Regions from separate parts of the Homo sapiens genome. Here region 1 is linked to region 2. The links come from fine-mapping of genetic effects on gene expression. Tissue or cell type: lymphoblastoid cells. Region 2 holds a variant in brackets; the other region holds the start of a gene. All regions are shown on one strand. Distances are from middle to middle.

Evidence for each region. PIP is the estimated chance that this variant, and not a neighbour inherited with it, causes the effect.
Region 1: ITGB3BP starts here. The variant in region 2 is fine-mapped to the expression of ITGB3BP in lymphoblastoid cells (TwinsUK, PIP 0.95).

What each region holds. Positions count from the first base shown.
Region 1 is chr1:63,522,096-63,524,595 of GRCh38, reverse strand. ITGB3BP (integrin subunit beta 3 binding protein) reads left to right here and starts at 1,371. Exons shown (of 9, transcript NM_014288.5): 1 at 1,371-1,467. The coding sequence starts at 1,463. EFCAB7 (EF-hand calcium binding domain 7) reads right to left here and starts at 1,071. Exons shown (of 14, transcript NM_032437.4): 1 at 962-1,071. RefSeq lists enhancers at 1,108-1,187, 1,349-1,972.
Region 2 is chr1:63,421,504-63,424,267 of GRCh38, reverse strand. The region is part of intron 12 of ALG6 (ALG6 alpha-1,3-glucosyltransferase); the gene reads right to left. Among named protein-coding and RNA genes, the nearest start is that of ALG6, 55 kb to the right of the region's middle. The variant T/AT (reference allele first, on the strand shown) is at 1,244.

The sequences.
Region 1 (2,500 bases), 100 kb before region 2:
TAATAAATTGAATATTTCAAGTTCAATAATAAGATAACACAGGTAGGGTCCCCTTCAGGACTCATTGCATTCCTACTCAGGAGGCCTAAATCACTTGCACCTTTTCGAATTATATAGATCATTTACACTTGGGAAAGAAAGATAATAATTGCTTATCATGGATGAAGTACCCTATTTATAATACGCAGGCCGCCTGCCTGACACTTTCATATTACACCAGATTTAGAAGGACCCCACAGGGATGTGGTGTCACAGTCTGGTTACTGCAAATTGGTAATACTATAATTAAGCATCAGAGTTCTAAACACATATGTGTGCATGCATCTCCTCACAAATGTGAAAGAAAACTGTTTCAAGAAGTAAGGGAGAATGAATTTCACTTTGCAATAAGCAATTTTAAAATATAAGTATATTTTAGGATCGTCCTCAAATATTCTTTCCAAACAAGGCAACTCCCTCACATGGAAATCCCAAGGCAGAAATGTGCCAGAATTTTATTCTTTTCCTTTCTGTGACGAGAAACCAAACTAAAGCTTAAATAAACATATAATTGCACCCCCCGCAGGCTTGGAAACCTCCCTTACTTAAAACTCCGGCCCGAGACTGAGACAGGGGCCTAGAGAGTACATTGCAGCAAACGGCTCCATAAATAACCAGCCACACAATAGCAAGAAAAATAAACTGTTAACAAGCGCCTAAGGCTTCTACAGGGCCAAGTGAAAACAGAAAGCCGTCCAGTCACCGTCCCTACACAGTGAAATACCGTCACAGGTAATCTCGGGCACCATCTCTCTATTTTTGTATTCCTCTGGAAATAAAACCGCATTTACATGTACATTTTAGGTACATACATGGACCAAATGTTTATGACAGAGAAGTAGACAAAGCAGAGGAAGGAGAAGCAGCTGCACAGAGAGGGACAGAGGGAGCGAAGAGACAGAGACAGCGAGCTGTTTGCTACCTAATTCTAGCTCACAAACAAGGAAGCGCAGCCAATTCTCTTCGGCGATTCAGCGTTCCTCTCACCGCAGCTGGACAGATCTCGGCCTTTCTCTAATCACCATGGCAACTGCACCTCACCGCCACCGGAAATAAGATGCAGAGCCCTTCTCCAAACGATCCGGCTAGAAATCTAGGAAGCGCTGATCCGGAGCGCACAGAGACAGCTGTGTTGCTCCTCTATCGCGGGGGTGGTATGGCCAGAGTAGTGAGAGAAGGTGCTCTGTTACACCAGCAGGAAATAGGTGCTGTCCTGGGCCTAGAACTCCCCGCTCGCTCCTTTGCTCGCGCACACCCGGATCCTTCGTCGCGGGGAGGATGTTTCCGCCCGGCCGCGGTGGGCTTGACGCAACGTCCAGCGCGCGCTTTTCATGCCTTGGCGTTTCCTTTGGCGGATTTTCTGTTTTCGGAAGTTGCTGGGTTCGTTTTATTCAGCGGCAGTGGTGCTTTCCCGAATCTCAGAATGCCGTAGGTATCTCCTCCCCAGGTATTGCTGTTTTGGGGGCCCTCTGCAAGAAGAGAAGATATTATGTGGCCCAGTAGCCTTTCTCGTTTTCCTATTTTTTCGGAGTATGAACTTGTCTCCTCTGTCCACAGGCAATTCCCTTCGCTTGGTACCCTCAACTCTACGTCTCCTCCAGCGGTACTCATACGATAGTCCTCCTTCGCTTTCTGTTTCTACGATGCTTTTGACAGATTTCGTAAACTGTGGGCTGTATTTAGGTGATGTCTAACTTGAAATAACATAAATAAGGTTGACACACAGGATGGGACAGAGTAGATGAAAACACGCCTTCGTAGTTTGTCAGTCCCTTGCCTTCATTAATGTGGCGCGTTCGTGTAAACCCGTGGGAGAACTCATGGACTGAGTGGGTCTAGATACCTGGATTCCAGATAAGACTCTTTCACTGTTGGGCAAGTCACTTATCGACCCTGAGCTTCGTTTTTTTTTACTTACACAAATAAGTTTGTACTGCATGATCTCTAAATTCCCATCTATGACCAATAATCTGATTATTGAGAATGACCATAGTGGGAATAGGCATTGTGCTAGATAAGATTCATCTGTTTTTCATATCCTTCATCCATCCTATATTGAGATGCATAAAATAGTTGCTACCCTATAGAAACTTAAAAAAGCCATTAAAGGTTGGGGGAGTGGGGTGGATATCAAACACCTGTAATTTCTCCTTGGCCGTCCTTGTCCTCAGGTTGATTTAGGTACCCCCTCTAGTGTAACCTGTTCCTTAGTTTATTTCAGGATTAAGTAAAATGCAAAGTAACACAGCTGGGGAAATTTTTGTATCAAATAGGAATTGACATGAAAGGGGAAAGCTGTACAGAAATGATAACCTATATTTATTGAATCTTGAATTACAATGTGGGTGCTGTATTAATCAATTTATCTACGTTTTTTCATTGAATCCTAAAATACTTTAGGGGATGGGGGCTGCTATTATCTTTACAGATAAAGAAACCCATCACCTAATAGGGTGTTCAA
Region 2 (2,764 bases):
TCGGGAGGCTGAGGCAGGAGAATCACTTGAACCCGGGAGGCGGAGGTTGCAGTGAGCTGAGACCGTGCCATTGCATTCCAGCCTGGGTGACAGAGCGAGACTCCGTCTCAAAAAAAAAATAGGCAAAGGATTTAAATAGGCTTGTCTCTGAAGAAGATAGACATATTGTGCCAACAAGCACATAAAGAGATGTTCAATATCATTAGTAATTAGGGATATGCAAATCAGAATCACGATGAGATACCACTCATATCCACTAGCATGGCTATAATCAAAATGATGGAAAATAACAAGTGCTATCAAGGATATGGAGAAATTGAAGCCTTCATATATTATTAGTGGGAATGTTAAGTGGTGCAGCCACTATGGAAAAGTCTGGTGGTTCCTCAATAAGTTAAATACAGAATTGCCATGTGACTCAGCAATTCTACTCCTGAGTATAGACTCAAACAAAAACTTGTACATGAATATTCACAGTGGCACTATTCACAACAGCCAAAACATGGTAACAACCCAATGTCCATCAACTGAGGAATGATGAACAAAATGTAGTGTATCGATACAATGCAATACTATTCAGGCATAAAAAAGAATACAGTTCTGATACAACATGGATGAACCTTGAAAATATTAAGAAGCTAGACACAAAAGACCACATATAATATGATTCCATTTATATAAAATATCCAGAATAGACAAATCCACAGAGATTTGCAGAAAGCAGATTAGTGGTTAGAGGGACTCGGGGAAGGGAAAATGGAGAGGGACTGCTTTGGGTATGGGATTTCCTTTTGCGGTGATGAAGATGTTCTGGAGGTAGATAGTGGTGATGCTTGCACAACAGTGTGAATGTACTAATTGACAATGTAACATTTATGCTATGTGTACTTTAACACAATTTTAAAAATATAATTTTAAATATTTCTTTTAAAAAATGAATTATCAGCCAGGCGCAGTGGCTCATGCCTGTAATCCCAGCACTTTGGGAGGCCAAGGCAGGGGAATCAGTTGAGGTCAGGAATTCGAGACCAGCCTGGCCAACATGGTGAAACCCTTTCTCTTCCAAAAATACAAAAATTAGCTGGGCGTGGTGGTGTGCGTCTGTAGTCCCAGCTACTGGGGAGGCTGATGTGGGAGAATCGCTTGAACCCGGGAGGCAGAGGCTGCAGTGAGCAAAGATCACGCCACTGCACTCTAGCATGGGTGACAGAGTAAGACCCTGCCTCAAAAAAAAAAAAAAAAA[T/AT]TGCATTATCCCTACTTGTCTTTAGTTCTTCTCCTCTCATTTTTTCTATTTTTGTTTCCTTTGTTTTTTGAGACGGAGTTTTGCTCTCGTTGCCCATGCTGGAATGCAATGGTGCAATCTTGGCTCACCGCAACCTCCACCTCCTGGGTTCAAGCAATTCTCCTGCCTCACCCTCCCGAGTAGCTGGGATTACAGGCATGCATCACCACACCCAGCTAATTTTGTAATTTTAGTAGAGACAGGGTTTCTCCATATTGGTCAGGCTGGTCTTGAACTCCCAACCTCAGATGATCCACCCGCCTGGGCCTCCCAAAGTGCTGGGATTACAGGCATGAGCCACTGTGCCCGGCCCATTTTTTCTTAACCCTACCTAATCAGGCTTCTCCGTGCATTGCTCCACCAACACTGGCCCCACCAAAGTCACCAGTGACTTCCATATTGCTAAGGCAAATAATATATTCCCAGCCCTCATCTTATTTGACCTATAAGCAGCATCTGATGCAACTTACCACCTCATTTCCTTAATACACCTTCTTTTATATATATATATTTATATATATATTTATATTTATATATATATTTATATATATATTTATATTTATATATATATTTATATTTATATAGATATATATTTATATATATTTATACTTATATATATTTATATTTATATAGATATATATTTATATTCCTATAGATATATATTCATATATAGATATATATTTATATCTATATAAATATATATATTTATATATATATTTATATCTATATAAATATATATATTTATATATATATTTATATTTATATAAATATATATTTATATTCATATAGATATATATTTATATAAATATAAATTCATAGTTATATATATATTTATATTTATATATATTTATATATTTATTTATATATTTATATATATTTATATTTATATATTTATATATTTATTTATATAGATATTTATATAAATAGATATTTATATATAAATTATATATATACATATATGTATATATATATACTTTAAGTTCTGGGATACATGTGCAGAACATGCAGGTTTGTTACATAGGTATACACGTGCCATGGTGGTTTGCTGCACCCATCAACCTGTCATCTACATTACGTATTTCTCCCTAATGCTATCCCTCCCCTAGCCCCCACCCCCCAACAGGCCAGTGTGTGATGTTCCCTTCCGTTTCCATGTGTTCTGATTGTTCAACTCCCACTTATGAGTGAGAACACGTGGTGTTTGGTTTTCTGTTGCTGTGTTAGTTTGCTGAGAATGATGGTTTCCAGCTGCATCTGTGTCCCTGCAAAGGACATGAACTCATCCTTCTTTTTGGCCGCATAATATTCCATGGTGTGTATGTGCCACATTTTCTTAATCCAATCTATCATTGATGGGCATCTGGGTTTGTTCCAAGTCTTTGCTATCATGAATAGTGCTGCAATAAACATACATGTGCATGTGTCTTTATAGTAGAATGATTTATAATCCTTTGAGTATATACCCAGTAATGGGATTGCTAG